7 linked regions of the Homo sapiens genome follow. The protein of the gene in region 1 purifies or fractionates together with the protein of each later gene. This does not show direct contact. Each region holds a gene or a part of one and is shown on either strand. Other genes may lie near its edges. The genes, in order: HORMAD2, WASHC5, WASHC4, KIF2C, AVL9, MCM8 and CCNYL1.

Region 1 (3,500 bases):
CAGTGTAAGTGTAAAAACATTCTTACGTATCTCTTTTCCAAAGCATCAAAACAACCTTGAATCCTGTCAAGAAATAAATGTTTGATGTCAATTGGACCATATGCAAATCCAAAAAAATTCCAAGTACAGAATTCATTTGCACTTTTTGCTTTGATGTACATTAAGTTGATAACCATCTTACCTTTCCCATTTAATCATTTTTTTAAACTTCCAGCAACTTTTAATATGATGATAGACCTTTATAAGTAATAGTGAGCTATTTTGTGGTAGTGAACCAAATTTTTTTGGATCCCATGTTTAGTACACTGACACACATATGATGAATTATCAATTTTTAAAATCTGTGTGGGTACATAATAGGTGTATATATTTAATATTTTATCACAGTTTTTATTTTTATACAAGTCAATTTTCTTTCAAAAAGCTAAATCAGTGTCTTAAAATTATATTGAATAATTCTTACAAATTCCTAGAAAATTATTTTTAAAAAGAAAGAGGGAAAGTAGGTCAGGGCAGTGGCTCACACCTGTAGTCCCAGCACTTTGGGGGGCCAAGGTGGTTGGATCATGAGGTCAAGAGATCGAGACCATCCTGGCCAAGATGGTGAAACCCTGTCTCTACTAAAAATACAAAAATTAGCTGAGCGTGGTGGCATGCACCTGTAGTCCCAGCTACCCGGGAGGCTGAGGCGGAGAATCACTTGAACCTGGGAGGCAGAGGTTGCAGTGAGCCGAGATTGCGCCACTGCACTCCAGCATGGGGGACAGAGCGAGACTCCATCTCAAAAAAAAAAAAAAAAAAAAAAAAAAAAAAATCAAAAACAGAAAAAGAAAAAGAAAGAGGGAAAGTAGAAAAGAAGAAATGGTTTTTTAAAAAATGATCTTACTAAATAAAGTCTTATGGGTAATTTCAGCCATGATAAAAATAATGTTGTTCAACTTTTATAGAATTTCTATTACTTACCATCTGATAATATGCAGTGACCCGGGACATTTTTTATCTTCTCGGAGGATTTTTAAACTGAGGTCTACAAAAACAGAAACACAGTCTATTTTTATCTACTAAATGACTGCTGTACTGAAATTGTCCATGCTAAATAGGGTATTTCCTTTAACTATTTTATTTATGTAATTTATTTAGTTTTATAGCTTATAAAAACATTTTGGATCTCTAAACATCTACTTTAAAAATAAATCCTATGTTAAGAAGTAGCTTGGTCTCAATTTCGATTACAGTAAGGATTTTCCCCCTTCTACAATGTAGCACAACTGAGTTGGCTCCAAAATCAATTTGTGTCCTTTCTTTGCCGCTGTAGAATTCTAAGTAATTATGAGGTAGTATTGAGACTATCTCCATTGACCAACTTAAAATATACACCTAAATATCAGTCATTTCCCTGTTATTTCTCTCCCTCTCATTGAAAAGGAAGGAATAAAAAATTTCACACGGATTATTCTCAAATATTTATTTTATCCGAAATCTACCTTTTTATACTTAAGAAGAATAGGAATATCATATTAAGAGTTTGGGTTTAGGCCGGGTGTGGTGGCTCACACCTGTAATCCCAGCACTTTGGGAGGCTGAGGCAGAAGGATTGCTTGAGCCTAGGACGTCGAAACCAGCCTGGGCAACCTAGTGAAACCTCACCTCTAAAAAAAATAATTAAAAAAATTATCTGGGCATAGTGGCACATGCCTATACTCCCAACTACTCAGGAAGCTGAGGCAGGAGGATCACTTGAGGCTGGAAGGTCGAAGCTGTAATCCTGTAATGATCATGCCGCCACACTCCAGCCCGGACAATGAAATGAGACTCCCTCTCAAAATAAATAAATAGAGTTTTGGTTTAAAGTAGTCCAAGATCAATCACTGATTTATGTGTGATTTTGCATAAGCAACTTCACCTTTTCGTATTGTTTTCCTATACTAAAATTGATGTTACCTGTATCTCTATTGAGGGATATGAAAATTATCCCATGTTGATATAACATTCAGAAATTACAAGAGAGTGACACAGGAGTATTAAGCATTTTTATGATGTATATTACTTTAAGAACAAACATTGAAAGGGAGACATAAAACTTCCACAATAACTGTCACAAAAAATAAAGCTATAGGGAATGGTATCATTGCCGTTGCCTAGGGTAGTGACTGGCACACAATATGTGCTTATTATCAAAAATATGTCTTTCTCAATTCTATGTTCTAGACAAGAGGGAAAATTACAAATATATGTTAGATATAAACACATTCACTATTACAAGTTTGTATCTCATAGACCAAAAGATGTCATAATACAAATGAGGTTGTCATGATTGCAAATATCATGTTTATGTGCTTATAGCACACATGCATTTTATTGATGCTCTTACATTACTTAAGATAATTTTTTTTTTTGAGACAGAGTCTCACTGTATCACTCAAGCTGGAATTCAGTGGTGCAATCACAGCTCACTGTAGCCTTAACCCCCCAGGCTCAGATGATCCTCCCACCTCAGCCTCCAGAGTAGCTGGAATTACAGGCACTCACCACCATGGCCAGCTAATTTTTTGTATTTTTTATAGAGACAGGGTTTCACCGTGTTGTTCAGGCTGGTCTTGGATTCCTAGGCTCAAGCAGTCTGCCCACCTTGCCTTTCAAAGTGTTATGGTTACACTTTGGATTACAAGCCTGAGCCACCATGCCCAACCAAGAGAATTAGACTGAAATGAGGCCAAGGTATATCATTAAATACAGATGTAAGAAATTTAAAATTAGATTTTGAAAAATAACATCTTACAAGGCAACTTGTAGCTCTCTATGTTTATTTTCCAAATGACAGTTCCTATTTTAGTGACAAGTCAACAAGATTCACAATCCAGCTTTTTTTTTTTTTAATACTTTAAGTTCTGGAATACATGTGCAGAAAGTGCAGGTTTGTTCATGTGCCATGGTGGTTTGTTGCAACCATCAACCCATCATCTAGGTTTTAAGCCCCACATGCATTAGGTATTTGTCCTAATGCTATTCCTTCCCTTGCCCCCCACCCCCCTACAGGCTCCAGTGTGTGATGTTCCCCTTCCTGTTTCCATGTGTTCTCATTGTTCAACTCCCACTTATGAGTGAGAACATACATAACACAGGTTTTCTGTTCCTGTGTTAGTTTGCTGAGAATGATGGTTTCCAGCATCATCCATGTTCCTACAAAGGACATGAACTAATTATTTTTCATGGGTACATAGTTTTCTATGATGTATATGTGCCACATTTTCTTTATCCAGTCTATCATTGATGGGCATTTGGGTTGGTTCCAAGTCTTTGCTATTGTAAATAGTGCTGCAATAAACATATGTGTGCATGTGTCTTTATAATAGAATGATTTATAATACTTTGGATATATACCCAGTAATGGGATTACTTGGTCAAATGGTATTTCTGGTTCTATATCCTTGAGGAATTGCCACACTGTCTTCCACAATGGTTGAACTAATTTACACTCCCACCAACAGTGTAAAAGCATT
Region 2 (3,500 bases), on another chromosome or scaffold:
TTACTAAAGATCACCCAGTATAAGAATACCTTTCCCAACAGAACACCTAATAAATGCTCCATACTGACAATTAAATGTATGTTACACTTCTTATTTCTTTATTGTAAAGACACACTGAAGCACTTCATCTCTCTGATTTTTTTTCTTCAGGGCTCATCTCCAGCAGTATAGCAGGCAGCTAGAGAGGACAGACATCACCTCTTGTAACCCTAGTATTATTTATGCACTCCTTATACTTGTCAGTGCCAAGGAATGAGTTCAGCACAAAGGGCACAAAGATAAATATTGTTAATTTCCTGTTTGCCTGCTGCAGTTTTCTATAAGACCAGTCATTCTCTACTCTTTTAATGATCCTGGCTTCACATCAGAATCATCCGGGGAGATTCTTAAAAACAGAGATGCTTAGGACTACCTCTAACCTACTTACCAGAAACTCTAAGATGCTAGGTGATTCCCTTAAGCAGCCAGGCTTGAGAACCACTGGACTAGAAGGTGAGATGTTTAAACATCTTCATATCCAGCCTGGCAAAGAGGTATTCAGCAAGGAGTGGTTGGGTAAAGATCAATCCTTGCCTTCAAGAACTTTCAGAATGAGCTGTAAGCAACGATAATATTCAGTATGCTAAGTGATCTAACCATCCTCAGAGAGTGCATTGGAATACAAGAGAAGCAAGTAATGGATTCTGCTAACAGTGCTAGATACCTAAGTGCTGAATTTTATGAGACTTTTGGACCAGTTTGATTTAGTATTTATAAATCATCTTCACAGAATTTTGCAGAACCTAGCATCTGTAATTTTAAAAGGAATCTTGGACATGTTCTTACCTTAAGCTTGCAGTTCCATTTCTGGGAAATAATTGGACAAATGCCTCAAAATGATGTACAGGGATTTGTCTCTGAGCTCTCTTTATAGCGTTTGAAATTATTTGCTAATATATCAAATAGTAGGAGATAGCTTGTATAATCAGGGTACATTGGAACCACACATGCCCAGTGGTTCCTTCTCCCTAGCACAGAGATGAGCTGTATCATATCTTTTTCTCAAGAGAAGTGACTAACATGTTGAAGAAGAGGCCAAGAGTGTTAATCTAGCAAAGTCCCTCCACATGGAAAATATGAAGAGTGACAGATAAACACCCTTTCCCCTATAAAGGAACTCATTATTTCTTAAAATTTTTTTAGTGAGTTTGGGAGAAAAATGTGTTTCTTATGTGTACACATGTGCTTCCTTAAACAAATTGAGATTTTCACACTTTTTTTGGGGATACAGGTTCTTTAATGGAGGAGCCAATCTCTCTGCACACCTGGTTTCATCTAATAATATACAGACACCAGCTCTGAGGCCAGTTAATCATCCCCAGTGTCCAGGCACAGAGTAGTCGGTCCGCCTCACAATGTTGGACTTTCTAGCCGAGAACAACCTCTGTGGCCAAGCAATCCTAAGGATTGTTTCCTGTGGTAATGCCATCATTGCTGAACTTTTGAGACTCTCTGAGTTTATTCCTGCTGTGTTCAGGTTAAAAGACAGAGCTGATCAACAGAAATATGGAGATATCATATTTGATTTCAGCTATTTTAAGGTAATCTTCCTCTATAGCATTTTTATTGTTGTCTTTTCTACAAAAGCGTGTTTTCTCTGGGAACCATGAAACTCTGTAAGGTTAAGGAATTATGGAAAAAGCTAAAGAGAAGAGCTTTTCGACTAAACTTAATATTAGCTACTAACTTGAAAATAAGTTGAAAGTATTATGTCAAAGCCCTAACACAATATAATTGTATTTTTAAAAGATAACTTTGATATTTCACATTGAAGGGCCCCATACTTAAAAGCATGCTAATCTTGGGTCCAATTCAAATTCATTTCTCTCAAAGGGATTTTATATCTAGGCTTCTATTATCTTCACTACTTTCTGTTGCTCTGCTTTAAGTTTGGGATGTCTAATAACATAAGAACAAATTTTTAAAAGACTATTTAGAAATTGTCACCAACAAGTATGCTTTTATTGACATTTCACATGTGTTTTTTTTTCTCAGGGTCCAGAATTATGGGAAAGCAAACTGGATGCTAAGCCAGAGCTACAGGATTTAGATGAAGAATTTCGTGAAAACAACATAGAAATTGTGACCAGATTTTATTTAGCATTTCAAAGTGTACATAAATATATTGTAGACTTAAACAGGTATTGATCTATTTAGGAATAGCTTATTCTGGTAGTAAATAGTGGAGAGGGAAAAGGACACATAGCAACGTGTAAATCTCTCTGAGTTACTACAAAATTTCCTAATTTAGTTTATACTGTATATAGTTGTCTTTTCCTACCTGTGGCACTGGTCATCTTAAGAATTTTGAAGTTTTACTATAATGTCCTGCTCTTATGAGGTGTTGTAATAAACTTAGTTTAACTAAGTCATATAGTTTCCAATCCTGTTATTTATTATCATATCCTAGTGTATTATATGTGAAAAGTGGGAAAAAGAACTTATCTTTATCATTAACTTTCTGTCTCTTAATACACTTCTTAAGAATTCATTACTCATTAACTTTTAGACTAGATATTCCATGTTCTTCTGCCTTTACTCCTAGATACTTGTAATTCACAAATCAGGACTAGGGAATATTTCTTTTACTTGGAACAGCGATAAATATCAAACTGTGGCCCTAAATCAGTTTATAAGACTGTATTCTTAAGAGCATGAAGGACCATGAACTAGTGGAAGGCCAGAATGCCTGGCATCCTGCCTTATCTTTTAAAAATCTTTCCTTCTTTAAAGATGTTAAAGTTTCTATTATAAATTAATAACTTGCACTGTGGTTTTATTTCTAGATATCTAGATGATCTCAATGAAGGGGTTTATATTCAGCAAACCTTAGAAACTGTGCTTCTCAATGAAGATGGAAAACAACTTCTAGTAAGTAATAATGATTATTTAAAATGAAATTCAAGAATATCAAACATAGTATCACTTTTTTTTCTTTTAAGTCACAAATATATACGAAATACCATTCTTTAAAGAGAAGCGAAATGAGCTTTTAATTATCTTCTAACTGGCAGGTCCATATCTGAGTTTAGAACATAGACTTTGAACAGAATTTAAAACAGTTAAAAGTTATGTGGAAGTTATGAGCCTCCTCGGTGTAAGAATTCTGTCTTCTTTACTTTTTGCATCCCAGCCATCTGTCCTGATACCTAGTACATACTAACCATTTAAGAAATGCTGATTGAATAAGTGAATGATTTTATGATGAAGAGGTATACACAATATTGGGTTGCTATTTTGGTGTCCCAAGCAACATAGCCAAAATAGGTCAACTGAAAAATTATCACTATGAATTAAAATCTGTTTTACATAAACTTTTCAAGGCCCATTCGGCAAGAAGGTAAGAGCTCCTTGGAGGAAACCTACCTTTTCCTTGAAATCTAAAACTTTTTGAAGAAGTGTGAGCAAAGCAATATTTTTCATGATTACCGACTTTACTCCCTAAGAATGTATAATCTAGT
Region 3 (3,500 bases), on another chromosome or scaffold:
TTCACCTTCAGATCATGAATATTTGTTTTTGCAAAAGAGTTGTTCATGACTAAAAGATAGAATCAGGACATTGAATTGTTTAAGGCACTTTTCAGATTGGTTCAAAGCCCTCTATTATGGGGGTAGATGGGCTAGTGGCTTTTTCATAATATGTTAGGGTTTTAAGGTAGTAACTTTATATATGGTAACATCTACTGCTTTTAAAATTATTTCGTGTATAGAGAAGATTGAAAGCTGAATTGTTGTTTAACTTTGGAACTTTATTTTCAGGAAGTCCAGACATTCCAGAGTAATAATTAACAGTGCTTTGCGTGACTTTTGAGGTTATTTGAAGTAAATGTCCTGCAATTCATTACTTGCACTTATCACATACTGTTTTAAAATTTAAACTTAGAAATTCATGCCGAAGTCCAACTTAAGAATTATGGGAAATTTCTTGAGGAGTATACCTCTCAACTGAGAAGAATTGAGGACGCTCTGGATGACTCAATTGGAGATGTTTGGGATTTCAATCTTGATCCTATAGCATTAAAGGTTTGATTTGATTTTTTAAAAATATATGTATATATTTTCTGGACATACTATATCCTGAAAACATAATTTTTTAAAATGGAAAAAGTATTTTTATTTGAAATCTAAGAACAAAATGAAAGTTGGAGAAAATTGTTAATTTCCTTTTCTCTAAGCCATGCAGATGTTTTTTAAATGTGTGTGTTTTCTGTTTAAGAATGACAAACACACAGCCTTTAGTGTCAAAGAATGACACAAACTCCAAGTCTTTGAGCTTGCCTTTGATTTTCATTATTAAGAAAATGAGGGCTGGATAGAATATTCAGGCTTTGTTTTTTCTTGATTGAGACTATTTTACATAGAGTGAAATGCAGATACTCTTAATTTTGCCAAACACTTGTAACTCATATCCCAATTAAGATAGAGAATATTTTCACCATTTCTGAAAAGTTCTCTCATGCTATATAGATGTTAATGTGTGAGTAATTTTTTAATGTATAAAATACATTACTCTTTCCATTTTGAAATATTTCTTTTATCTTTAAAATTAGTTTGTTACCACTTGAAAAATAATTTACATTTTATTGAGCACTTGTGTATTACACACTGTCCTAAGTCACACACTGACTTGTTTTTATAACAGCTTTCTTGAGATATAATTCATATATCATACAATTCACTCATTTAAATTGTATAATTCAGTTGTTTTTAGCATATTCACTGAGTTGTACAACCATCACAACAGTCAATGTTAGAACGTTCTCAGCCCCCAAAAAAGAAACCATGTACCGTGTGATAATCAACCCCCAGTTCATGCCATGGCATACCTGCCCTAGGCAACCACCAGTCAATCTACTTTTTATCTCTATGTGTTTGTCTCCTCTGTACACTTCATATAAATGAAATCATACGATATGTGCTCCTTTGTTGCTGGCTTCTTTAACTTATGTTTTCAAGGCTCATCTATGTTGTCACATGTTTTTAGTACTTTCTTTTTTTGCTGTTGCTGAATAATATTCCATTGTAAGGAATGGATAACCACATTTTATTTATCCATTCATCAGTTGATAGACATTGGATTTTTCTACTATTTGGCTGCTATGAGCATTTGGGCACATGATTTTGTGTAGACATATATAAGTATATTGTATATAAAATGTGTGTACATTGTGTGTATATTTTATACATATGTATATATGGGAGTGGAAATCCTGGGTTATGTGGTAACTATGTTTAACTTTTTGAGGAACTGCCAGAATGTTTTCCAATATGGCTATACCATTTTACATTACTACCAGCACTGCATGAGGGTTCCAGTTTCTCTACATCCTTGCCAGCCTTTATTGTCTTGATTATATTCTTCCTAGTGAATGTGAAAGCTCATTGTGGCTTTGATTTGCATTTCTGATGGCTAATAATGTTGAGCATCTTTTCATGTGCTTATGGCCATGTGTCTGTTTTCTTTGGAGAAATGTCTGTTCACATCCTTTGCCCATTTTTAAATTGGGTTATCTTTTTAGTATTGCATTATAGGACAAGTATTGACTTTTAATTCCCACCACAATCCTATAAAGTAGATACAATGTCATCTCCATTTGTAAATGAGAAAACTAAGGCATAGAAAAGTTAAGTAACTTAGTCAAGTAAGTGACACATTTAGTTAAATAATGAATATCAGGCAGCTTGACTCCAGAGCCTGTGCCCTTATCCAATACCCTGAACTGCCTCACAAATACTTTATATATTTGTAAACTGAAATTACTTTCCTTTGACTTCTTTTCTTGCAGGCTGGATAGACTTAGTCTTACTTTAAAAATCATCCCCCCCCAAATTTGTAATTGTCTCTTTTTGTTCCTCAACACTTCTGTGAGAATCATTGTATGTAAGTTATAGGAACTCTACTAGGAAACTGTCATTCTCAACCTGTACTATCTCTGAGGGTAATAAGTTTCATATATCTGTCACTTGGCATTAAGTAATACATGTTGATTTTTTAAACAGATGCTGTTGGGCTTTCTCGCCATTAAGTAATACTTGTTGATTTTTTTAAGACTTGCTGTTGGGCTTTAAGGGCCTCTTCTAGATAGGATTATAAAATCTGTTTTTTTTCTCAACTCTCAGATTTTATAAAAGGGTGAAATCATCTCTTAGTTTTTATCTTCCCCTACAGAAGCTTTCTAATCTTTACAATCTTATTATATGACAGACTCCATCTCCGCAGTTGCTCTCTTCGGAACCTCTGTTTAAGTTCTATTATTGGGCAGTTATTTTATTGTTTTTACTATACAAGGTTCTTAGTATTTTGGGAAAAACCACAAACTCAGATAAAACCTCTGTAAACAAAAATTACAACCTAATGAGAAAGGGTATATAATAACTTACTTGCATAAATAGTTAGTTAGTATGTAACCAGAAGGGAGATCTGAGATTTCACTTGATAAATAGATCACATATAGTCAATGATCAGGAAGAGGTGGAAATTGAACGGGCTTTAGGAGTGAACTCCACATACTATTTTAAGTGTTTCTGAGCATGGATTTATACAAGAAAAGATGTATTTTCTGTCTTGTTTCATTCTTAATTTATTTTGACCCTTTAGCTACAATATCTTATTAAATTTGTGGCTGCATAGAAAATTCAAAAATGATGAAAGGTTTTTCCCCATGATCATAACTAATGGAGTTTAATAATGTTACTATTACCTTATTACCTTGCATTTTCTTATACTGCACTCATAATCAGCCACCTTATGCTCCATAGGACAAGTAGAGTCGTGATTGTGTCATGTTGGGCCATTTCTTTCCTTACGTGTTGTCTAATGAGATTGTTTTGGATGAAGTAGTTGATATGGTGCTAATGTTGAGTACAGGATCTAACACAAGTTTAAGTCGAATAAAGCTAGCCTCAATTTGTGTTTTTAAAATTTCAGTTATTTTTCAAATTAAAAGAAATGTTCTTTTCCTTTGTTTCTGTAGCTTTTGCCTTATGAA
Region 4 (3,500 bases), on another chromosome or scaffold:
CTCACACCTTTAATCCCAGCACTTTGGGAGGCCAAGGCGAGCGGATCACCTGAGGTCAGGAGTTTGAGACCAGCCTGACCAACAGGGCGAAACCCTGTTTCTACTAAAAATACAAAATTAGCCAGGTGTGATGGCAGGCGCCTGTAATCCCAGCTATGTGGGAGGCTGAGGCAAGAGAATCGCTGGAACCTGGGAGGCGGAGGTTGCAGTGAGCCGAGATTGTGCCCCTGCATTCCAGTCTGGGCAACAAGAGCAAAACTCCGTCTCAAAAAAAAAAAAAAAAAAAAAAAAAGCAGATAGAGCAGATCTGGAGTTCCCCAAATCTGTGAACCCCAGTGGGCAATGGTGTGGCTGCATAAGGCACAGAAGAACCCCTGGAGCCTGGCCAGCCCTGCCTCAGCACGTAACGGGTGATACCTCATTCAGTATCCACTCAAGGATGGGCCACTAAGCTGCCAAAGGGTGTGACCCAAAGAAAACACAAGAAGCGAGGAAGAGCCTCAGAATTCAGCACGTCTGTGAGTAGTGTTACCACGATGTCCCACAAAAAAAGGGGATGGAAGGGCACAAGGAGGGAAAAATGGATGCAAGGGACTAACCTGTAGACAACTTCATTCGAAGCTGTTTCATCAAATGCAAAGTCAAAGCAGAATGCTTGGTTCTCCAGATACTTTGTTAAGTCCACTTTCAACTTGGGTTCATGTACCAAGAGGAGACACTTGCTAGGAATGGAAATCACATCAATTTCTTTCTTGGCCAATTCTGCAGAAGGAGAGTATTTCAGGGGGTGCTCCCTGGAAACAGAAGGCCCATTAGTCAGTCTGAAGCCTCTTCCTGACTGAACAGGACTTACCTTGCTTATTCAGTGGGCGTTTCCTAACACAGACACATATTCTGTGCTCTTCGATCTGCAAGCGGATGAGAGGAGGCAACCAACAGCAAAGGGTCAGAGCAATTTCAAAAGCGAGCTTGTCCAGAACTCCCACCCCTTCCAATCCCATGTCTGGCCCAGTCAGAGGCCAAGATCTAACACTAGGACCCCTGCATCCTCCATTAGATACTCCAGAGCACAAGAAGGGAGCACTGGATTTTGTTCCCATTTTTCTCACTCTGCTGCCTACAAGAGTTTCAGCACTACTTTCATGATTTTTACTAATGCAGGAATCTAGCCAACCTATGGTATGGGGGTGGAACCCAGTTTATAAAGATCAGACCCCTCCCCATGTGGGCCTCACTAGCTTCAGCCCACCAAAGGATATTAAAAAATAACCTCGGCTGGGCATGGTGGCTCACGCCTGTAATCCCAGCACTTTGGGAGGCTGAGGTGGGCAGATCACGAGGTCAGGAGTTCGACACCAGCCTGACCAACATGGTAAAACCCCATCTCTACTAAAAATACAAAAATTACCTAGGCGTGGTGGCACATGCCTGTAATCCCAGCTACTGGGGAGGCTGAGGCAGGAGAATCACTTAAACCTGGGAGGTGGAGGCTGCAGTGAGCCAAGACCATGCCATTGCACTCCAGCCTGGGCGACAGAGCGAGACTCTGTCTCAAAAAAAAGTAAAATAAAATAACCTCAGCCAGGCACAGTAGCTTACACCTGTAATCCCAGCACTTTGGGAAGTCAAGGTAGGCGGATTCCTTGAACCCAGAAGTTCCAGATTGGCCTGGGCAACATGGTGAAACCCTGTCTCTACCAAAAATACAAAAAATCAGTAGGGTGCGGTGGAATGCATCTATGGTCCCAGCTACCTGGGAGGATGAGGTGGGGAGGATCACTCAAGCCCAGGGAAGTGGAGGTTGCAGTGATCCAAGATCGTACCACTGCACTCCAGCCTGGGTGACAGAGTGAGACCCCATCTCAAAAAAAAATAATAATAAAACCCTCAAAGGTGAGTAAAGATTCCTGCATGCCCTCATTCCTGTAAAGAGAAGTTTTCTGTCTCTCAATTGTACACTTAAGAAAGAGAAGTTCTTTGGATGTACTTACAGGATCAGTCATAGTAAGTGGATGACATTCCAAAGTAGCCCGAAATTCTTTAATCATTCGGGCAAATTCCCAGTTTGGAAAACTACTGTCATACTCCTGGTTTGAGACGAGAGTGAAAAAGGGCAGACTGTTAAGATATAAGTGCTCTCAGACCCCTATGCGGCAGCAGCAACAGCTCTTTGCTCACCACCCTTCATAGTTGTCAAAGTCCCTGCCCTGGCTCTGGGTTGAGAAGCCAGGTACAAAGCACTGGGGAAGAGATTGGCAGAGGGGCCTAAGCATACGCCAAAGCACGCTAGGAACTGGAACTAGGGCCAGTTCCACATTTTAGGAGGCACAGCAGATCGGGCTTCCCAGAAGCAATGAACCCAAATAAGGGGACTGTACTGCAGTCCCTGCCCTCCAAATACGTACAACTTGGGGGAGGATAGGAGAGAGCAGACCAATTGTGCCCTGCAGCCCCTCTGGCCATCACGCCATGTGAGCATGTGATGGGCTTGCTTACTAGACAGTCAGCATGAAATGTTCCTCATCTGAGGGCCTTCAGAAACATTTCTGAATTATTTGTTCTCTGAATCCTGATAAACCAGTTAAATTTCCTGGATATCAGAATTGGAGCGTCAGAGGCCAGGCGCAACAGCTCATGCCTACAATCCCAGCACTTTGGAAGGCCAAGCATTCCAGACCAGCCTGGGCAAAATAGCGAAACTCTGTCTCTACTAAAAATACAAAAAATTAGCGGCACATGCCTGTAATCCCAGCTACTTGGGAGGCTGAGGCCCAAGAATCACTTGAACCCAGAGGTGGAGGTTGCAGTGAGCCGAGATCACACCACTGCACTCCAGCCAGGGCAACAGAGCAAAAAAAAAAAAAAAAAAAAAAAAAAAGAATTGGGGCCTCAAGAACTGGAGCCTCAGAAATGCTGGGGCCCAACTGTATCTCTGTTGCCCGTAGAGTTTCGGTTAAGGACACCTGTCCAAAAACCCTTACCCTAGTCTCCCAAGAAAGGTACCTGAGCTCTCTTCATTCTCATTTCAGAGTTCTGGGCCTTCTTCTCTTCTCGCTTGTTCTTCATTTTTTCCACTTCCTTCACAAGACATGATTTCCTCCGAACTATGAAAACATAAAAAAAAAAGAAAAAAAAAGGAAGCCCACTCTGTTACCAGTTTAAGCCAGCCTACTCTTCTCTGGCTATTTACTGAGTACTGGGCCTTTCCCAGGGAGAGGCCTTCTCTAGATCCTTACTCTTAAATCACTATATGCAAAAAGAAGTAATAGATGTGACTCTCGGGATGGACAAGTCCACAAAGTAGTGGCCTGGCCAATATGAAGTCAAATAGTGATAACTGCACTCCAGTTCTAACCCAAGCTCTTCCTATGCATCTTGGCTACTTTCTCAACAACCACAGAAGTGAAACAGTTCTTGTTTTGTCTTGATAATGAAAGACTGATTCCATGGCCAGAGGAAAACATGCCCCCACGTGACAAACAGGGCTTGAACTCAGGTGC
Region 5 (3,500 bases), on another chromosome or scaffold:
CCATCTCTACTAAAAATACAAAAATTAGCTGGACATGGTGGCAGGTGCCTGTAATCCCAGCTACGCGGGAGGCTGAGGCAGGAGAATCGCTTGAACCCGGGTGGCAGAGGTTGCAGGGAGCCGAGATCGTGCCACTGCACTCCAGCTTGGGCGATAGAGTGAAATTCTGTCTCAAAAAAAAAAGAAAAAAAAAAAATTCAGCCACACTGAGGTTTTTGTAGTTTCTGACAGAAAGTATGAAAACATGTTTCTTGGGTGAATGGTTATAATATAATGAAAGTCCAGGATTCAAAGATGTATTTATTATAATCCCAAATTTGAAGAAGAAAAAGTATATACATTTTCCAAGACAGGAGGATACAGATGGGAGGACCATAAAGCTGCTTCATCATTATTGGTTACATTCTAGTTCTGTAGTTGGTTGGTGGGTTCGTAGGAATTTCTTTTATTATTATACTTCAAAACTAACCTGTAAGTTACATGTATTTTTTAGTATATCAAATATTACATAATAAGATATTCTAAAGTATCTGGCCGGGCATGGTGGCTCACGCCTGTAATCCCAGCACTTTGGGAGGCCGAGGTGGGCAGGTCACAAGGTCAAGACATCGAGACCATCCTGGCTAACATGGTGAAATCCCATCTCTACTAAAAATACAAAAAATTAGCCGGGCGTGGTGGTGGGCGCCTGTAGTCCCAGCTACTCAGGAGGCTGAGGCAGGAGAATGGCATGAACCCAGGAGGCAGAGCTTGCAGGGAGCCAAGATTGTGCCATGGCACTCCAGCCTGGGCGACAGAGCAAGACTCCGTCTCAAAAAAAAAAAAAAAAGAATATTCTAAAGTATCTGCACGCAAAAGAAAAAGTATTTAAGGAATTATACTTGTTAAATGTGTTCATTTCTGCTAGTGAAATAAAGGTGATTTTTACATGTATTTCTATATTTTCCCAAATATTTGCAATCTAGGTGAGTAATTTTGTAATTTAAAATACTATATTTATGTGTGTATTTTCTAAAAACAGAAAATGAGCATTTTATAAATAGAAAGAAAACTTCAGTGTACAAACCTCTTTCTTAGACTCACCTTTTGAGAATGCCATTATTCATATTTTTTATTTCCAGCTCCACCTTCCCCGTAGTTACTCTGTAAAGTGTGGCATGGATGTCTGCGTGAATGCCCAGACTCTGACTTGTACCTGGATACCCTCTAGGTAGAAGAAGCTCTGATCCAGATCCATGATCCAGAACTCAGGAAGCTGCTTAACCCAACCACTGCAGACCTAAGGTTCGCAGACTACCTAGTGAGGCACGTGACTGAGAATCGGGATGACGTCTTCCTAGATGGCACGGGCTGGGAGGGAGGTGACGAATGGATCCGGGCCCAGTTTGCGGTCTACATTCATGCCCTGCTGGCTGCCACACTGCAATTAGGTAAGAAACCACACGGAGCCTACAGCTACCTGTTTTATTATAATTTTTCATTTTGTAACATTTATGAGATTTTGGATTGCACAATAAATACATATTCCTTATAGAAAAATTACCAGTTATTCCCTCATACAAAGATAGCCACTTTTAACGTCTTTAGTACTTTATAGCCTTGCAAATCTTTTCCTATGCATGTATTTTGGATTTTGGTTTTATGGTACTTTTGGTGGTCCTTTTACAAAAATGGATCCCTTTATACATGTTTTCTGAAACTATTACTTTATAATAGAAACAACACATACCAACATAACATGAACATATATCATCACTTTTACATGACTGCTTCATATTCATCAGTATTTGGCAGCTGTTTGTGAATACTGCCACATGTTTTTTAAGATGTATAAAGGGAGAAAGAATATAAAAAATAGAAATCATTGAAAATCGTGTTGTAAATGATTAAATCTTCAAATTTATAACCCATTCTAAGAAATATTATTATTCGTATTAAATGGTTAAAATGGAGCAGGTAAACATGGAGTTACTCCTGCATTAAAACTATCTCATTCTCCTTGGGAAAGAAATATATAAATAGTGAAAATGGAGCTCTGCAGTGAGCTTTTCACCTTGGACATTTGGCAGATATTTATTAGAGTTGTTAAAAATGTGTTGAGCTTGTGTTTTTGTTTCAGTTAACTAACCATTATTTTTTTAATTGTGATGAAATACACATAGCATAAAATTTACCATCTTTACCATTTTTAAATGTACAGTTCCACAGTGGCATTAGATACATTCATTGTTGTATCAGTAGATTTTTTTAATCAACACCACCACCACATGCTCCCAGGTTAGTTGTTTACAGTGCACATAGGAGTTTTAAAGTAGGTTTCGGGAGAGTTTTTCATTTGTAAAAGACAGCTGAGGAACAAGCCCTCGTTTGTTAATGAGATATTTTTAAATGTTTGCCACCACTAACAATGTAGCAGCTGAGACACCAAAATTAAATCCTTTAACCCCAAATCATTTGGTAATCTAGAAAGAAAACTTCAGTCTCCACTGCCATGTAGCTTAATTAATTTGCTTTTAAGCAAATTAATTAATTTGCTTTTTTAAAAATATTTGCCCAGGAGGCTGTAAGCACTGAATAATAGTAGCTCACTTTTTTTTTTGAACATTAAATATATGCAGGGACCAGTGTTCTGAGCACTTTACATCTAGTAATTCATTTCATCCTTACAGCAATCCTGAAGGTAGGGACCTTGTCATTGCCTTTTACAGAAGAGAAAATGAAGCTCACAGAGGTTCATAAGAGGCTTAGGTGGGATCTGATCCCAAACAGTTTGGCTTAGGCCCATACTCTTACAAGTAACAAGGTCAAAAGAGGAAATTCAGCCCAATGAACTGCTTGAGGAAGTGTTCTTAGAACAACTTCTTTATGCTGTGTATGGAACTGTGTATCTCATTCATTTCCTTTCCTAGCAACAAAAGGTACTTTGTATTTCACCTTCAAAGTAAACAACATGCAATTAATATATGAAGTAATAGCCATTTGTATCAGTTCTCCAAACCATTTCTAATCTTCCAAGCGGAGGAAACACATATGGATGCTTTCCCATGGTATTGATAAAGCTGAAAACTTTATCAGTTTTCAGTATATTCTTTTAAGACTTTTTTTGTTTTGTTTTGTTTTGTTTTTTGAGACAGAGTCTCGCTCTTGTTGCCCAGTCTGGAGTGCTGTGGCATGATGTTGGCTCACTGCAACCTCCATCTCCTGGTTTCAAGTGATTCTCTTACCTCAGCCTCCCGAGTAGCTGGGACTACAGGTACCCGCCACCACGCCTGGCTAATTTTTGTATTTCTGGCAGAGACAGGGTTTTGCCATGTCGGCCAGGCTGGTCTCGAACTCCTGACCTCCAGTGATCCGCCCTCCTCGACCTCCCAAAGTGCTGGGATTACAGGCATGAGCCACTGCACCTGGCCTTTTTTAAGTGTTTTTGACAGTGAAATGCTAGGAAATTCAAGAATGAAACACCAAATAAAGTCCAAAGGAGAGAACATCATGACTGAAAG
Region 6 (3,500 bases), on another chromosome or scaffold:
AGATGCTCCTGAACCTCAAATAATTTGAGGAATTTCTTGTTGCTTACATAAGATGAAACATTCCCTTTTAAAAAAACATGTATTTGTAGCTCCCTATGACTTTGTTTTATATTCTAGTTGAGTCATTGTAGGGAAAATGAAAATACCAACTATTGTATTTAACACTTTTAATTTACAGGTTCTCGAAATAAGAATGACAAGTGTATGTTCCTTTTGTATATTGAAGCAAATTCTATTAGTAATAGCAAAGGACAGAAAACAAAGAGTTCTGAGGATGGGTGTAAGCATGGAATGTTGATGGAGTTCTCACTTAAAGACCTTTATGCCATCCAAGAGATTCAAGCTGAAGAAAACCTGTTTAAACTCATTGTCAAGTATGTATGCTGTCATTTGAAATTTTATTACATAGATGCATGTTGGGGGTTCTCTTGGCTACAGGTAACAAAAAACTAGTCAAAATGGTCGGCAAACTACAGTCCATGTACCAAATACAGTACTCCATCCCCTTGAGTATGGCCTATGAACTAAGAATGGTTTTTATATTTTTTAATGGTTGAAATAAATTAAAAGAATATTTCACAACACATGAACTTATATGAAATTCAGATTTCAACTGGATATGGTGGCTCACGCCTGTAATCCCAGCACTTTGGGAGGCCGAGGCAGGCGGATCACTTGAGGTCGGGAGTTCGAGACCAGCCTGGCCAACATGGTGAAACCCTGTCTCTACTAAAAATACAAAAATTGGCCGGGCTTGGTGGCGGGCGCCTGTAATCCTAGCTACTCGGGAGGCTGAAGTGAAGAATCACTTGAACCCGGGAGATGGAGATTGCAGTGAGCCAAGATCGTGCCATTGCACTCCAGCCTGGGCAACAAGAGTGAAACTCTGTCTTTAAAAAAAAAAAAATTCTGATTTCAGTGTCCATAAATAAAGTTCTATTGGAACATAGCCACACTCATTCATTTACATAAGTGTGCTGCTTTTGTGCTACAGTGGCAGAGTTGAATAGTTGTGACAGAGAACATATATATGGCTCACATATTTTTGCTTTATCCTTTTATAGAAAAAATTTGCTGATCTCTAGTTTAAACAATACAGAATATTTACTATCTTATACAAGAAGTTTGTCACTCAACGGAAGAGTGAGGGAACAGTGAATTCCAAAGCCATTTCAATTAGTTCTGTGTAGGGTGTTGCTCATAGAGATTCAAATCGAATTAACATATATTCAAAAAGTATTTGATAATTTTATTTCCATGCTATTGCCATGCCGTGGAGAAGCAGCAAAGTATAGGCATTTTTTGCTTTAGTGGTTAAGAGCTTTTCTTTGGAGACAAACCTAAGTTAGACTCCTGCTTTGGGCATTTACTTCCAGTGTGATCTGGGACATATTACTTAATTTCCCCTTTATTTGTATCACCTTAAAATGGAAATAATAAGACTTACCTCAGAAGGTTGTTCTAAAGATTAAGTGGGATTTTATAATGTACTTAACATAACTACTGCAACATACTGTTACTTTTGATAATTTTTTGACAACTGTGGGGTAATTTTGAAGAAATAGGAGAAAATGAGAGAGACTGAATAATAGATATATCTAAGAGAGGTAAAGAACTGAGAACGTTTTGAAATGCATTGTATTATAAAAAGTGATCTTGGCCAGGCACAGTGGCTCAAGCCCGTAATCCCAGCACTTTGGGAGGCCGAGGCGGGTGGATCACCTGAGGTCAGGAGTTCGAGACCAACCGGACCAATATGGTGAAACCCTGTCTCTACTAAAAATAGAAAAATTAGCTGGGCATGATGGCAGGTGCCTGTAATCCTAGCTTCCTGGGTGGCTGAGACAGGAGAATCTCTTGAACCTGGGAGGCGGAGGTTGCAGTGATCTGAAATCGCGCCACTGCACTCCAGCCTGAGCAACAGAGCAAGACTCTGTCTCACAAAAAAAAAAAAAAAAAGTGATTTTGTCATGCTTTTCTGTTCAGTAGGCTCAGGTCTGTAAGAGGATTTGATGCTTTTTCTTTCTGGCTTTAATATGTTAATTAGCTGACTGAGTAAAGAATAGTGCTCCACAGGGGTTTTTTGTCCTTAAATCCTACTTCCCTCTGAATAAAAGCCATTCAGACCCACCCTGGAAGAGAGGCTGCTCTAACTTAGCGTTGCTGGGGTGGTCTTGGAGTGAGTCCTTTGAGCAGGTGGCCAAGGAAGCAACCTGGTCGACAATCCAAACATCTTTGGTTCCTCTTAACAGTTGTAAATTAAAACTGAACATTTTTAGTGGTCCCTCTTCTCCCATACTTATAGAAGAGTAAGTATGGAAAACTTTAGTTTTCTTCCCACAGTTTGCTTTTTCCCCCTCCATGTTTGTGATTTCAGCATCAAAACTAGAATTTTTCATGGTCCTCTATTATCAGTCTAGCAGAGATTGGCAAACTAGGCAGGCTGCCTGTTTTTGTAAGTCAAATTTTATTAAAACACAGCCCCACCCAGTTTACTTACATTACTGTTCACAGTTGCTTGCACACTACAAGTTGAATAGTTGTGACTGAGACAGTATAGCCTGTGAAGCTGAAAATACTTTCTGGCCCTTTAAGAAAAAGTTTGTCAACCCAGCCTAGGTGACAGTAGAAGTTTATGTTTTAGTTTAGGTTCCTTCAGAAGCAATGATTTGGATCAACATAGTTTACTTGGGAGGTGATTCTGGAGTTACTGGTAGGGAAATGATGGCAGCCAGTGTAGGTGCCTTAACGAACAGGTGACCCACTAGCATCTGGGACATAATCCTCCTGGGCCAGTGGAAAACTCCACTGTGGAAAGCCAGCTTCAGTATTTTTCCATTTAAGGGCCTACATTTGGGACTGCCCCCAGGAGTATTAAACACCTCAGCACTTCTGGCCTGCCCATCCTGCCTGCCAATGATGCTTGTGTGGCCATAGAAAGGTCTTTGGCAGACAGGTGCAGATGCCAGTAGGAAGCCGGAACATACTGAACAGTGAGTGCCAAGGGGATATGAGCACACCACCACCTCCTTCTGTGTTTACATATATTAAAAGGGAATAAAGACTCATGTTTTACTCCTGATTTTCTCTCCCACCCTATTTTTGTTTGTTCCTTGTTTATAAAATTGACAAATGTAAATGTACTGTTTTATATTCTTTCTCTTAATTTTTTTTAGAGACAGGGTCTTGCTGTGTTGCCCAGGCTGGATTGCCGTGGCACAATCAGAGCTCACTGTAGCTTCAAACTCCTGGCCTTAAGTTATTCTCCCACCTCAGCCTCACAAGTAGCTAGGACTAAAGGTGTATGCCACCATGGCTGGCTAATTTTTAATTTTTTTTTTTATAGATATCGGGGTCTCACTTTGTTGCACAGGCTAGTTTTGAACTTTTGGGCTGAAGCAGTTCTTCCACCTTGGCCTCCCAGAGTGCTTGCTGGGATTACAGGCATGAACCTGTAAACCAAAAATAAAATTCCAAGGCCCCCCACCCATTTAAACAGA
Region 7 (3,500 bases), on another chromosome or scaffold:
TGGCAGGGCTGGGGGTGATGGGGAGTGGTAACAAAACCATGTGGTTCAGAGCCAGATACTGATTCCAGTGTAGGTCTAAGCCAAGTCCCAGGCTCTATTCCCCAGGTATTTCCGATATGTGTGGTGATTGAGAACTATTGCCCTAAATTCTTTGTTCCTTGGATGATGGGTTTTAATCATCTCTGCCTACCTCTTGTGCCTGCTCGTGATGTTGCCCAGCAATGTGGTACCAGCAATACTTGGACAAAGGCTTTGCTGATTAGCTTACTAAGCTATAGCTGTGTCCTTAACTTTATGTCCTCCATACAGAATTCCTATGGTAAGATTTTATCATTGAATAATAAATCCTATTCAAGTGGTTAGGATTGTTTTACTCCTCCCCACAGCAAACCTATAGAGGAAGGTCAACTGCATGGCCTGGAGGGAAAGAATACTTAGGTCAGTACCTACTCCTTTAGCATCCAATTGGAATTTAGGAGAGAAGGCTTCTGTGCACTTGAATAGAAGCCCCTCAGTGGGTACTGGATCAGACTTAGGCCTTTTCATGGAGCTGTAAGCCATTTGGAACACTTAGCACATACTGTAGAGAAGCAGGAGTGGTGCTTCCAGATGTAGAGAGACAGGTGATACAGGAGAGGAAGCTGTACAGGAAGAGGGGAGTTCATTTTAGATGGTTTAAGCTCTATGTGCCTGTGAGGTAGCAGTGACAGTGTCCAATAATCATTTGAATGTACCGGACTGGAGCATGAATCTGAGCTTAGAGGTAAGGAATGAAGAGTTATAGTAGCTGTTCAAATACAGAGAAAGGTTGCAGAATGAAAGTGGAGAAGCTAGGCATGGTAGTGCACACCTGTAGTCCCTGTTGCTGGGGAGGCTGAGGTGGGAGGATCACTTGAGTGCAGTAGTTTGAGTCCAGCTTGGGCAACATAGCAAGACCCCCATCTCTAAAAAAAGAAAAGAAAGTGGATAGAAGATAGATCTCTAAAGACTGTTAGCATTTTTGAGGGACAAGCTCCCAGATGGAGTGGAAGGAGGAAACCCAGGAGAAGGTAATAAAAGAACAGAGATCAAGATAAGAGAGGCTATGGTCCCAGTGTTAAATGCTGCCAAGAAGTTTCTGATTCTGTAAATATTCACTGGGTGCCTACTCTGTGCCACTATTCTTGTTTTTTGTTTTTGTTTTTGTTTTTGTTTTGTTTTGTTTTAATTTTTTAGTAGAACTAGAGTCTAGCTATGTTGCCCAGGCTGGTCTCAGAACTGACCTCAGGTGATCCTGCCAGAGTGTTGGGATTACAGACGTGAGCTACCAAGTGCTAGAGTAGAGGAGAGGCAGATTGAACAAAGTTCTTGCCTTTATGAGCTTATGTTCTAGTGAGGAAGACATTTTTTCAGGTAGTGGTAAGTAGCAAGAAGATGAAGCAGCATAAAGGGATACAGAGTGACAGGAGGGGCTCACTATTTTAGATAGAATGATCAGGAAGAACCTCTCTAGAGGTGACATTTGAGCAGTGACCTGATCAAAGCAAGAAGGTAAAGAGTGCTGGCATTACAGGCAGCCAGACAAGTGCCAAGACTAGACAGGAACATTTTGTGTGTGTGTGTGTGTGTGTTCAAGGAACAAACAGCAAGGTGTCCCGTGTGGTTGGAGTGAGTTGGAAAGAGTGGAGGAGGTTGAGGTCACATAGGGCCTTTTGGCTTGCAGGCCACAGGAAGGTTTTTTTTGTTTTGTTTTGTTTTGTTTTTGAGATGCGGAGTCTTGCTATGTCACCCAGGCTGTAGTGCAGTGGCTCAATCTTGGCTCACTGCAACCTCCACCTCCCAGGTTCAAGCAATTCTCCCTGCCTCAGCCTCCCGAGTACCTGGGCTTACCAGTGCCCGTCACCACGCCTAATTTTTTTTTTTTTTTTTTAAGTAGAGACCGGGCTTCGCCATGTTGGTCAGGCTAGTCTTGAACTCCCGACCTCAGGTGATCCGCCTACTTCGGCATCCCGAAGTACTGGGATTACAAGTGTGAGCCACTGCGCCTGGCCAGGAAGAAGTTTTTATTCCAGTTTGATGGGTACTTTAGGTAGATTTTGAGCAGGGGAGTGAAGTGCTCTTAAGAAGTTATGCTGATGGCTTGAAGAGAGTAGGCCATAATTGGCAGAATAGAGGCAGAGAAGAGAGTTAAGAAGCAACGAGGGTGATACAGGTGAGCAGTGACAAATGGCAGCTCAGAATCAAAAGCGAGCAGCCTACCAATGAAGGTGGACATAGCAGGAATTGTGCACAGTCTGGTGTGGGATAACTTGAATGTAGGTATTTGGTCTCAGCAACTAGGTGAATGGAAATGCCCTGTACAATATTAGGGAAGACTTGGGGAGTGGAGCAGTGGGATGAAGAGCTCTGGCTTGTAAGTGTGAAGACTCTGGGGACCTTGGCAAGAGGAGTCTCAGGAGAGTGACAGCAGCAAGGGACAAACAGGAGTGGGTTAAGGAGAGATGGGAGATGAGAAGCTGACACCAGGACATGATGCTTTGAGCAAATGAGAGGACACATCCGGGGAGTTGTGGGGAGGGGGATGGGAACAAAGGAAACACGTTGGGGAAAATCTCTGGCAGAGAAGGAGAAAGCCTTCAAAAAGACGCAGTTGCGGGGACAGTGTTCTGCACAAGTGGGAGGGGATCAACTGCACTGATGGAGTTGGCTTTAGTGGGAAGAAAAGAACTCTCACACTGACACAGGAGGGCAAGTGGTATCAGTGAGCATCAGCACATCACCAGCTTACCCGTAAAGGCAACAGGAAGTTGAGGGATTGTCTATGTTGTTTCCCTGTGGTCTAATTATTCCCATTGAGATTTGAACCCTGTTAGGATACTGAGAGTGCAGAATTTGGGGGAAAGGGAACAGAATCTCTCTTAAGAACATGTCATGTTCAATATCCATTTTTGAAAACACAGTCCAGTTTGGAGAACACTGCCAGATCTGATCTGCCTATCTGATAACCTTCAGACAGTAAATAAGCTCTGTTAAAATGAACTTTTTTCAGGCTTGGCACAGTGGCTCACGCCTGTAATCCCAGCACTTTGGGAGGCTGAGGTGGGCAGATCACTTGAGGCCAGGAGTTTGAGACCAGCCTGGCCAACATGGTGAAACCCCGTCTCTACTAAAAATACAAAAATTAGCCAGGCGTGCTGGCGGGTGCTCAGCTACTTGGGAGGCTGAGGCAGGAGAATCGCTTGAACCCAGGGGGCAGAGGTTGCAATGAGCCAAGATTGCATCACTGCACTCCAGCCTAAAAAGATTTCTTTTTGTCTTGATACAGAGTTCAAACAGCATATAGACATACTCTTCCACAGAGAACCCTTTGAGGTAACAGCAAATTACAGCTTACCTCTGAAATCTTTACTCAGCTGTTCACTTTGCTCAGTTCTTTGAAGGATGTTTGGTAGATGTAAAATAATTCATGAAATTGTCTCATAAACTGCTTGGCAGGTTTAGAGGAATACCAGGGGTCCAGA

The links.
Region 2: the proteins of HORMAD2 (region 1) and WASHC5 purify together in Homo sapiens (affinity purification with mass spectrometry; one large-scale study listed by BioGRID and IntAct). This does not show direct contact.
Region 3: the proteins of HORMAD2 (region 1) and WASHC4 purify together in Homo sapiens (affinity purification with mass spectrometry; one large-scale study listed by BioGRID and IntAct). This does not show direct contact.
Region 4: the proteins of HORMAD2 (region 1) and KIF2C purify together in Homo sapiens (affinity purification with mass spectrometry; one large-scale study listed by BioGRID and IntAct). This does not show direct contact.
Region 5: the proteins of HORMAD2 (region 1) and AVL9 purify together in Homo sapiens (affinity purification with mass spectrometry; one large-scale study listed by BioGRID and IntAct). This does not show direct contact.
Region 6: the proteins of HORMAD2 (region 1) and MCM8 purify together in Homo sapiens (affinity purification with mass spectrometry; one large-scale study listed by BioGRID and IntAct). This does not show direct contact.
Region 7: the proteins of HORMAD2 (region 1) and CCNYL1 purify together in Homo sapiens (affinity purification with mass spectrometry; one large-scale study listed by BioGRID and IntAct). This does not show direct contact.

What each region holds. Positions count from the first base shown.
Region 1 is NC_000022.11:30,100,964-30,104,463, reverse strand, and holds part of HORMAD2 (HORMA domain-containing protein 2), read right to left. Parts: intron 1,028-3,500; coding exon 964-1,027; intron 64-963; coding exon 27-63; intron 1-26.
Region 2 is NC_000008.11:125,081,793-125,085,292, reverse strand, and holds part of WASHC5 (WASH complex subunit 5), read left to right. Parts: intron 1-1,270; 5' UTR 1,271-1,394; coding exon 1,395-1,580; intron 1,581-2,034; coding exon 2,035-2,180; intron 2,181-2,825; coding exon 2,826-2,910; intron 2,911-3,500. UniProt on the Homo sapiens protein: Acts as a component of the WASH core complex that functions as a nucleation-promoting factor (NPF) at the surface of endosomes, where it recruits and activates the Arp2/3 complex to induce actin polymerization, playing a key role in the fission of tubules that serve as transport intermediates during endosome sorting.
Region 3 is NC_000012.12:105,110,731-105,114,230, forward strand, and holds part of WASHC4 (WASH complex subunit 4), read left to right. Parts: intron 1-394; coding exon 395-534; intron 535-3,485; coding exon 3,486-3,500. UniProt on the Homo sapiens protein: Acts as a component of the WASH core complex that functions as a nucleation-promoting factor (NPF) at the surface of endosomes, where it recruits and activates the Arp2/3 complex to induce actin polymerization, playing a key role in the fission of tubules that serve as transport intermediates during endosome sorting.
Region 4 is NC_000001.11:44,753,337-44,756,836, reverse strand, and holds part of KIF2C (kinesin-like protein KIF2C), read right to left. Parts: intron 3,105-3,500; coding exon 3,004-3,104; intron 2,088-3,003; coding exon 1,992-2,087; intron 909-1,991; coding exon 854-908; intron 763-853; coding exon 600-762; intron 1-599. UniProt on the Homo sapiens protein: In complex with KIF18B, constitutes the major microtubule plus-end depolymerizing activity in mitotic cells. Regulates the turnover of microtubules at the kinetochore and functions in chromosome segregation during mitosis.
Region 5 is NC_000007.14:32,571,989-32,575,488, forward strand, and holds part of AVL9 (late secretory pathway protein AVL9 homolog), read left to right. Parts: intron 1-1,121; coding exon of another isoform or gene 1,122-1,210; coding exon 1,211-1,430; intron 1,431-3,500. UniProt on the Homo sapiens protein: Functions in cell migration.
Region 6 is NC_000020.11:5,967,652-5,971,151, forward strand, and holds part of MCM8 (DNA helicase MCM8), read left to right. Parts: intron 1-178; coding exon 179-374; intron 375-3,500. UniProt on the Homo sapiens protein: Component of the MCM8-MCM9 complex, a complex involved in the repair of double-stranded DNA breaks (DBSs) and DNA interstrand cross-links (ICLs) by homologous recombination (HR).
Region 7 is NC_000002.12:207,742,640-207,746,139, forward strand, and holds part of CCNYL1 (cyclin-Y-like protein 1), read left to right. Parts: intron 1-3,500. UniProt on the Homo sapiens protein: Key regulator of Wnt signaling implicated in various biological processes including male fertility, embryonic neurogenesis and cortex development. Activates the cyclin-dependent kinase CDK16, and promotes sperm maturation.